2 separate regions of the Homo sapiens genome follow, and region 2 is linked to region 1. Evidence: fine-mapped expression QTL. Tissue or cell type: tibial nerve. Region 1 holds a variant in brackets; the other region holds the start of a gene. All regions are shown on one strand. Distances are between the middles of the regions.

The links. PIP is the estimated chance that this variant, and not a neighbour inherited with it, causes the effect.
Region 2: it holds the start of NIPA1, and the variant in region 1 is fine-mapped to the expression of NIPA1 in tibial nerve (GTEx, PIP 0.94).

Annotation. Positions count from the first base shown.
Region 1 is chr15:22,817,982-22,822,981 of GRCh38, forward strand. NIPA1 (NIPA magnesium transporter 1) reads left to right here. Exons shown (of 5, transcript NM_144599.5): 4 at 2,332-2,492. Among named protein-coding and RNA genes, the nearest start is that of NIPA2, 18 kb to the right of the region's middle. The variant C/T (reference allele first, on the strand shown) is at 3,079.
Region 2 is chr15:22,783,703-22,789,221 of GRCh38, forward strand. It overlaps NIPA1 (NIPA magnesium transporter 1), which reads left to right and starts at 2,942. Exons shown (of 5, transcript NM_144599.5): 1 at 2,942-3,132. The coding sequence starts at 2,955. RefSeq lists silencers at 2,614-2,847, 2,810-3,169, 3,240-3,389, 3,400-3,529 and an enhancer at 3,880-3,989.

The sequences.
Region 1 (5,000 bases):
AGGTGGATCACGAAGGGCACAAACAACAGAAGGAAAATAGATAAATTCGATGTCATCAAAATTAAAAACCTTTCTGCTTAAAAGGATGCCATCAATGAATTGAAAACTCGTGGGAGAAAAAATTTCAAAGTATATATCTGATAAGGGACTTGTAGTTAGAACACATAAAAACTCTTGCCGGTCGTGGTGGCTCACGCCTGTAATCCCAGCACTTTGGGAGGCCGAGGCGGGTGGATCATGAGATCAGGAGTTCGAGACCAGCCTGGCCAACATGGTAAAACTCCGTCTCTACTAAATACAAAAAATTAGCCTGGTGTGGTGGCACATGCCTGTAATCCCAGCTACTTGGGAGGCTGAGGCAGGAGAATTGTTTGACCTCAGGAGGTGGAGGTTCCATTGAGCCGAGATTGCGCCATTGCACTCCAGCCTGGGCACCAAGAGGGAAACTCTGTCTCAACAAAAGAAAACGAAACAGAAACTCTTACAGTGCATCAGTAAAAAGTCAGATAACCCAATTTAAAAATGGCACTGTCAGCCAGGCGCAGTGGCTCATGCCTATAATCCCAGCACTTTGGGAGGCGAGGCGGGTGAATCACTTGAGGTCAGGAGTTTGAGACCAGCCTGGCCAACATGGTGAAACCCCGTCCTTACTAAAAATACAAAAATCCCCCAGGGCATGGTGGCGGGCATCTGTAATCCCAGCTACTCGGGAGGCTGAGGCAGGAGAATTGCTTGAACCCGGGAGGCAGAGGTTGCAGTGAGTCGAGACTGCTCCACTGCACTCCAGCCTGGGTCACAGAGTGAGACTCTGTCTCAATAAATGAATGAATGAATGAATGAAAATGGCACTGTCCTCTGGTATTCCACAATGGAATAAGAGATGATTTGGCCTCGTGGCTCATACTGTCCACTTTCGTGCATGGCAACCCTTTCCCATCTTGGCATAGTCCACCCGTTGTCCGAGGCCAGTTCCAGGCCCACTTTTTGCCCTGTGAGCCCCCTGCATTTCTGGTTTCTCCTTTTCCAGGCAGCTACTCGGTGGAGCTTCTCTATTTAACATCTAGTTGTGTATTCATGTCTTTTGTTGTTTCTTTCAGTGATGTTGCTTATTTCCCCAATGACACTGTTGGGAGCTTCTTAAGAACAGGCTGTCTAGGGACAAGGATGTGAAGTGGTACAAGGGAAAAGTAGGCCGTTTAGGACCTGTGGGTGTGTCATGACCGTGCTTGTATCTCTTGTTAGCTTTGTGGCCTTAGGTTCAATGCTGACCCTTTCTGAGGCTCAAGTTTCCTTATCTTTAAAATAGGTATTAAAGGAAGTAATCCGGTCCATACCTGAGCCTGGTATGCCCTCCTCCCGGACGTTCCTGTTTTCTGATCGTCTTCAGCACAGACATGAGTAAAGTGACAATGACCAGTCCTGTGACTTACTGAGGGCAAGGTGTTCCAATTCAGATTGTATACTGATAATTACACAGGGAAATAAGAGAAGAAACAAGTTAGAAGCCTGGAGATTATAGATGTTTTTGAAGAATACATTTTTTTGCATTAATAATGTGACCAGTTTTTAAAAGTTTTCAGTATTAGAGGAAATAGCCACCCCATACTACTTCTACTACTGCAATTACTATTAGCATTTTTATTTTTTCTTTTGTTTGTGCATTTTTCACTTAATTTATTTTGTTTTTATCATGCATTACTTATAATTATTTTGACAGTTTTTGTACCCTACTTTTCCATGTAGCATAGATATTAGTATTTTTGATTGGTTCCTTTTATAAGAAAGGAAGCATTACTTTTATTTTTGGTCAGTCATAAAACTTTTTATACTCTGGTGTATTTTATATGTGCTGACATAGTAATATAGTGGTGTAAATTATGTGTATCATTAACTACGTAGTGGTTATACATGGAATTGGTGTGAAAATCCTGGCCAGGCATGGTGGCTCACACCTATAATTCCAGCACTTTGGGAGTCCAAGGCAAGAGGATCGTTTGAGCCCAGGAGTTTGAGACTTGCCTGGGCAATCTAGTGAGACCCAGTCTCTACACAAAATTTTTAAAAAATTAGCTGGGTGTGGTGGCATGCACCTGTAGTCCCAGCTACTCCGGTGGCTGAGGTAGGAGGATCACTTGAGCCCAGGAGTTCAAGCTTGTGGTGAGCTGTGATTGCACCACTGCACTCCAGCCTGGGCAACAGAGTGGGAGGTGGTCTCTTAAAGGGAAAAAAAGAAGAAAAAGAAAATGGTTTTTCTAGATAAAATATCTGCTGTTAGAAGAAAGGTCAGGTAGTTTGGTTTAAACTTTAATGATTTCTCTTTTTTCAATAAAGGTCCATTTTAGCTTCCTATCTCCTGAAGGAAAAGCTCAACATCTTGGGCAAGTTGGGGTGCCTGCTAAGCTGTGCAGGCTCCGTCGTGCTGATTATCCACTCCCCAAAGTCTGAGAGTGTGACAACTCAGGCTGAGCTGGAGGAAAAGCTGACCAATCCAGGTAATTCCTTTCTAGCAGCACTGCCAAGAAAGTTTGCAGTAGGAGTGCCAACTTTTTTAACCACGTCTTCAAATTGGATGCTTCCTGGCAGGGCAGAGGAACCGTGTGTCCACCCTGATCTGTTACTGTAGATCTGTGTTCTCTGGGAACGTGCATCAGTGGGCTGTGCTCGCAGGCTAGCCCTCTGCCCTCACCCTCCCGCCTGATCCTCAGGCCCTGCGGGGAGCCTCCGTGGCCTGGTATTCCTTCGGGTTCTCTTCTGGGGCCTTGTGCATGGGCGCCTTCCCTTCCCACAGTGGCTCCCCTTGGGCCACCCTCCCAAGTCTGACTGCCACCCGCCCCTCCCCACATACCTTTCCTGGTGTACCCTGCCCACTCTATCTCCACCTCAGCACTTCACTCCCTCCAGCGTGAAGCTCTGTGAGAACAAAGACCTGGCATCTCTTAAGTTTAGATTCCTCATATAGCCCTGTTTATATATCTTTTGACATAATTTCTTTTCTTTTCTTTTTTTTTTTTTTGGAGACGGAGTCTCGCTCTGTCACCCAGGCTGGAGTGCAGTGGCGCGATCTCAGCTCACTGCGAG[C/T]TCCGCCATTCTTCTGCCTCAGCCTCCTGAGTAGCCGGGGACTACAGGCGCCTGCCACCATGCCCGGCTAATTTTTTTTGTATTTTTAGTAGAGATGGGATTTCATCATGTTAGCCAGGATGGTCTTGATCTCCTGACCTCGTGATCCGCCCACCTCGCCCTTCCAAAGTGCTGGGATTACAGGCGTGAGCCACCATGCCCGTCCTTTTTTTATTTTGATAAATACACTAAAAACTACTATCTACGTGATTACAACAGACTTAAAGTATAGATTTCACTTTAAGTAGACCACCCTGTGTTGCTTACCAACAAGTTTAGGCAGGTTCCAGCACAAAACTGCCTCCACATCAGTTTGCTGGTTTACATGTCCACACTCGCTGGTTTGCATGTCCATACTCGCTGGTTTGCATGTCCACACTCCCTGGTTTTCATATCCACACTCGCTGGTTTTCTCGTCCACACTCACTGGTTTTGTCCACACTCGGTGGTCTGCATGTCCACACTCGCTGGTTTTCTTGTCCACACTCACTGGTTTTCTTGTCCACACTGGCTGGTTTGCATGTCCACACCCTGGTTTGCATGTCCACACCCTGGTTTGCAAGTCCACACTCGCTGGTTTGCATGTTAACACCTAGTTTGCATGTCCACACTCACTGGTTTTCTTGTCCACACTCGCTGGTTTTCTTGTCCACACTCTCTGGTTTGCATGTCCACACTTGCTGGTTTGCATAGCCAGCAGTTCCCAGCCCTCTCAGGTCCATTTGTGATGTTGGAATGGATTTCATGGAAAACACAACCTCCTTATACACACAAGTTCAAACCATCAATTTAATGCCCTAACTGTAATATAAAGGAGAAATACCAGGACAATACTTTAAAACAAAACATCCCTTTCAATATGTAAATGCTCAGGTCCCACTATAAGAGAAGACCTATTGAAGCTGGCCGACCCCACACCTTGTGAGGAGTGGTTGAGAATCTGGTAGCTGCAGATATAGACTGACGTGGGGGTGTAATGTTATTGACTGGGACACTTGAGGTCTTGCTATCAACAAAATGATCCTCAGATGGAGCATAACTCTTAATGAAGTTTTGATCAAAGAACAATCCTCCCTCAATTTACATGGAAGTGACATGTCTGAAGAATTCAGCATATATTAAATCCATGCAAAAATTACTTTGTTTCATACATAAAATAGTTTCTAGGCTCTGATTATTATAGGCATATTTTTCAGTTACAAGTCCGAGGAGACATTCAGCAGTTGTGACGAGAATGGGATGATTTTTGATGGGGGTGGGGGTTGCTGTCTGCACATGCCTCTGCCCACTGGATGCAGCCCCCAATCATTGCAAAACCCACAAACACCCCCACAGCTTAAAGTCCTCCCTCCTGTCCCCTGCCTTACCCCTGCCCCCTGGATTCCCAGGTGCTTTTTTGAAACCTCGGAGCATCTCCATTCACTTGTATTGTTAAGAGAATGTTTCTAGGCCGGGCACAGTGGCTCACGCCTGTAATCCCAACACTTTGGGAGGCCGAGGACGGCGGATCACCTAAGGTCAGGAGTTCGAGACCAGCCTGGCCAACATGGCGAAACCCCGTCTCTGCTAAAAATATAATAGCCAGGCGTGGTGGCGGGTGCTTATGTATTCCCAGCTACTCAGGAGGCTGAAGCAGGAGAATCGCTTGAACCTGGGAGGTGGAGGTTGCAGTGAGCAGAGATCGTGCTATTGCAATCCAGCCTGGGCAACAAAGAGCAAAACTCCATCTCAAAAAAACAAAACAAACAACAAGAAAAAAAGAGAATGGTTCCAATAGAGGACCATGTAAACATTTAGGAGCTGTAAATGGTTTTTTTTTTTTTTTTTTTTTTTTTTTTGAGACGGACTCTTGCTCTGTCGCCCAGGCTGGAGTGCAGTGGTGT
Region 2 (5,519 bases), 34 kb before region 1:
CCCAGCTACTTGGGAGGCTGAAGCAGAGAATTGGTTGAACCCATGAAGCGTAGGTTGCAGTGAGCCAAGATCACGCCACTGCACTCCAGCCTGGGTGACAGAGCAAGACTCCATCTCAAAACATAAGACGAAAAAAAAATTTTTTAGGGAGCTGAAAAGTGAACTGATTTCCTCATTTCTCCTTGCAAGGAATCAATTGATAGCCCAAAATTGAAACCCAGAGTTAAAATAAACGTAACTCCCACCCTCTTAGTGTTTCTCACTTTTTTTTTTTTTTTTTTGAGACAGGGTCTCACTTCTGTTGCCCAGGCTGGAGTGCAGTGGCGTGATCATGGCTCACTGTAGCCTCAACTTCTGGGGTCAAGTGATCCTCCCATAGCCTCCTGAGTAGCTGGGACTACAAGCACATGTCACCATGCCTGGCTAATTTTTGTATTTTTTTGCAGAGATGGGGTTTCATCATGTTGCCCAGGCTGATCTCAAACTCCTGGGCTCAAGTGATCTGCTGGCCTTGGCCTCCCAAAGTACTGGGATTATAGGCATGAGCCACTGTACCTGGCCTACTAACTTTAATTTTAGGTGTATCTTTTAGGAAGTAATATCTCATGGCAAAATAATGTTTGTCATTCAGTAGTTACTGTAGTTTCATTTCAGTTTTTCTTTTGTTAAATTCAAGCAAAATATAGTTTTATGTTTTTAATTAAAATCCCATATGTGTTTCCCCATCAGATAAAATATGCCTGTCATTTAACCTATGTACTCACATGGAAAAATGTCTGGGGTGGAGTTCTTTTTTTTTTCTTTTTTTTTTTGAGACGGAGTCTCACTCCGTCGCCCAGGCTGGAGTGCAGTGGTGCCATCTCGGCTCACTGCAAGCTCCGCCTCCCGGGTTCACGCCATTCTCCTGCCTCAGCCTCCTGAGTAGCTGGGACTACAGGCGCCCTCCACCATGCCCGGCTAATTTTTTGTATTTTTAGTAGAGACCGGGTTTCATCGTGTTAGCTAGGATGGTCTCGATCTCTTGACCTCCTGATCCATCCACCTGACCTCCGGATCCGTCCGCCTCCGCCTCCCAAAGTGCTGGGATTACAGTCATGAGCCACCTCCCCGGCCCTATTTTATATTTCTTCACAAAATAATAATGCTGTATGCAAAGCTGCCAAAAGGTTTATACTTTTCGTTTGTTTTTGAGACAATCTTGCTCTGTTGCCCAGGCTGGAGTGCAGTGGTGCAATAACAGCTCACTGCAACCTCCACCTCAAGCCATCCTCCCACCTCTGCCTCCAGAGTATCTGGGGTTGGAGGTAAAAGCCACCACGCCCCGCTAATTAATTTTTTTCTTTTTTTGGTAGAGACGGGTCTCGCTACGTTGCCCAGGCTGGTCTTGAACGTCTGAGCTCAAGCGAGCCTCCCACCTCGGTCCCCAAAGTGCTGGGATTATAGGTGTGAGCCACTGTGCCCAGCTTGTAGCATCGTTTATAGACAACAAAACCTGGCAGCAACCGGCCAGGCGCGGTGGTTCACGCCTGTAATCCCAGCACTTTGGGAGGTAGAGCGGACGGATCACCTGAGGTCAGGAGTTCAAGACCAGCCTTGCCAAGATGGTGAAACCGCGTCTCTACTCAAAATACAAAAATTAACCCGGGCGTGGTGGCGGACGCCTGTAATTCTAGATACTCGGAGGCTGAGGCCGAGAATCGCTTGAATCCGGGAGGCGGAAGGTTGCAGTGAGCCGAGATCGCGCCATTGCACTCCAGCCTGGGCGACAGAGCGAGACTCTGTCTCAAAAAAACAAACCAACCTGGTAGCTACCTAACACCCAACAATGGCTGAATGGTTAGACAAATTATTATACTGTCATTAGAATAATCATATTTATGTACCGATACAGAAACTGATATATATTAAATAAAAAGGAAATTTCGTATATTGTAATTGGAAACATGTAAAAGTATGTATACATTATGGGAAAACACCTAAAATACTAATAATTAGGTGAGGGTTGTGGAATTGAGTCACTTTAAAAAATATTTTTTTCCAAAAAAAATAAAATAACTTTTTCCTATTTTTCAAGCTTGTAATTTTGTTGTTGTTTCTTTTTTTTTTTTTTTTTGAGACGGAGTCTCGCTCTGTCGCCCAGGCTCGAGTGCAGTTGTGTGATCTCCGCTCACTGCAAGCTCTGCCTCCCGGGTTCACACCCTTCTCCTGGCTCAGCCTCCCGAGTAGCTGGGACTACAGGCCTCCGCCACGACGCCCAGCTAATTTTTTGTATTTTTAGTAGAGACGGGGTTTCACTGTGTTAGCCAGGATGGTCTCGATCTCCTGACCTTGTGATCCACCCGCCTCGGCCTCCCGAAGTGCTGGGATTACAGGCGTGAGCCACCGCGCCCGGCTTGTTGTAGTTTATTAAAACGAGGAAACTAGACTATGGGATCACAAGCCCAGAGCCCCATGTAGCTGACTCTAGCGCCAAGGGCGGAAGAGAAACGCCCAGCGCCAGGGCTCTCCTTCGATCTCTGCAGCGGCGCGCCGGGCTTCGCGCTCCGGTGAGTTGGGCCGGCCTCCGCTGGAGGCTCTTCGGGGACCGCTGCCCGCCGGTGCGTCCTGCCGCGCTCCGCTGCCCGGATATTGCAGAGGACACCACTCAGAAAGTATGCGTGTTTCTCCGCGCTGGAAACTTAACCAGGAGTCCTGCATTTCCATTTGCGAAATCCGGGAACCCCCGCCCCACCCAGCGCCTCACCGGCCCCTCACTGCCGCCGCGTCCGGCGCCACTGCTGTCCCCGCAGCCTAAGGCGCCGGTCCCTGGCACCCCCGTCCCGCCCCCGCCCCTCTTCCTGCTCCTCCCCCACCCGTCCCCCTCCCCTCCCCCGCCCGCGCCTCCCGGTCACCCCCCATCCCGCCCCGCGGGGCGCGGCGCGCAGGCGCAGGCTCGGAGGGCGGGCGCGGGCGGAATGGGGACTGCAGCTGCGGCAGCGGCGGCGGCGGCGGCGGCGGCGGCCGGGGAGGGGGCGCGTAGCCCGAGCCCCGCCGCCGTGTCGCTCGGCCTGGGCGTGGCCGTCGTGTCGAGCCTGGTGAACGGGTCCACGTTCGTGCTACAGAAGAAGGGCATCGTGCGTGCCAAGCGGCGAGGTAGGGCGGGCGGCAGGCGGCAGGCGGCGGGCGGGTGGGGGAGGCGGGCGGCGGAGAAGGCGGTCGCAGGTGGGGGCGCCCGGGTCGGGGCAGGGGACGGGGTCGGGGCCCGGGCCCAGGTTGGGGGAAGGCTGCGCGGGCGGGTGCTCCCCGCGGCGTGCCCAGGCTGCCGCCGCGTCCTGGCGCTCGGGCCCGGGAGCGGCCCAGGAATCACAGGTGCGTCCTGAGCGTCCGGCGCTTCGCCGACGCCACGGCTTTTCTCCGTTCTCAGCGGCTGGAGCGGCTTGCTTTGGTGTGCGGGCTTCCCCGGCTGACTTTTTCCCTCGGTCCAAGACCTGCCCCGCGCCGCCCGGCAGCCCTCGCCGTGGCCCGCAACCCGCGGCCGGGAGCCTCCTGCGGACGCGGTGCTGGGGTGCTCGAGCCCAGCGCCCGCCTGGAAGCGCCGCTTCAGCCGATGCGCGGCCCGCTCCTAGGGTACGCTCGGTAGAGCAAGACCTGGGATTTCCAGTCCCCCGCAGGGGCCTCGCTGGTGCAAAAGGAAGACCCGGGCGGGCTCTCAGGGCTGTGCGTTCCTGGGGTGCTCTTACGGAGCCCGCTGCGCCTTAGACCTGCACCAAATGAATACAAGTGATCTTCAGTTTGGAGAACACGCGCGGCAGATCCAAAACCAAGCCCTGGACGGGCCAAGGCCACTTCCCAGGTGGATGTGCCGCAGCACCGCACTCCGTAGTGCTCTGCGGGGTAGAGCTCTCTGTCAGTGTCGTTTGTGCTGGGAGGCCCCGGACGGGACCGGTTTGCCAATGCAGGATATGGCAGGCTGTGAAACAGTCCGTTTCCATTGCTTCCAGAGGGACTGAGAAAGTCTTGTGGTTCTTGGCCATACTCTTAGAAGAAGAATATTAAGAGCTCTCTGGGAAGGATGTGGCCCCCGACTCTTGGGTTGTGAGAGAAAGTGAACTCGTAATTTACATGGCGGAATGCAGGTGAAACTTTCTCTGAGTGAGCCAGGCGTTGGCTTCAGAGAAGAGATAAAGGGCCCGACAGTCTCGAATGAAAATATAAAATCATGGATAATTTAAGGAATTTAGCTTTAAAGTGAAAGCATAGTGGTCTCCCATACAATTTAAATAGAATTAAATAAAACCAAGTATGATTTTCCAAGGATGCAGATGTGTCTGTCTCTAAGGCACACAGATACACACACACCGCAGCCACACTTCAGGGAGCATCTGTCCGTGTGACAGGCCCCAGGACTGGGTGAGATGGTCAACGCGCGTGACCTTATAAATAGGATGGCCTGAGAAAGCACCTCACCTCCCCAATCCACGGCCCTAGCGTAAGCATGAGGAAAACACCACACAAACCGGAGTAGAAGAACATCTTGCGGCCGGGCGCGGTGGCTGGTGCCTGTAGTCCCAGCACTTTGGGAGGCCGAGGCGGGCGGGTCACAAGGTCAGGAGATCTAGACCATCCTGGCTAACACGACGAAACCCCATCTCTACTAAAAATACAAAAAATTATCCCGGTGTGGTGGCACGCACCTGTAGTACCAGCTACTCGAGAGGCTGAGGCAGGAGAGTCTCTTGAACCCGGGAGACAGAGGTTGCAGTGAGCCGGGATCCGCCACTGCACTCAGCCTGGGCGGCAGAGCAAGACTCCATCTCAAAAAAAAAAAAAAAAATCTTGCAGTACACCTGACCAGTCCTCTGTGAAGGTCATGGAATCTGAAAGCACGTCACAACCAGGAGGAGCCTAAGAACACGTGAACACCAGATGTAAGACATTAGGGAAAAACGAAGGAAAGCTGAATACCAGCTTTAGTTAGTTTTCTAAAAAGTTGAGGAAAACTGTGTTATTTCAACCCAGGTCATGTGGCTCAAAGGAATTGGTGAATAGGAAAATAAACAAGCGAGTAGCCTTTTAAAAAAAACATGATAAGCTGGGTGCAGTGGCTCACACCTGTAATCCCAGCTACTCGGGAGGCTGAGGCAGGAGAATTGCTTGAACCCAGGAGGGGGAGGTTGCAGTGAGCCAAAATTGTGCCATTGCACTCCAGCCCGAGCGAGAAGAACAAGGCTCTGTCTTAAAAAAAAAAAAAAAAAAGATAAATGCTGTTTCTTATACCTATATACTATGCTTTCATTCATTTATTTATTTTTTATTATGATTTTTTTTTGAGACGGAGTTTCGCTCTTGTTGCCCAGGCTGGAGTGCAATGGCGCGATCTTGGCTCACTGAACCTCTGCCTCCCGGGTTCAAGCGATTCGCCTGCCACAGCCTCCCGAGCTGGGATTACAGGCGCGTGCCACCATATCTGGCTAATTTTGTGCTTTTACTGGAGATGGGGTTTCATCATGTTGGCCAGGATGGTCCCGAACTCCAGACCT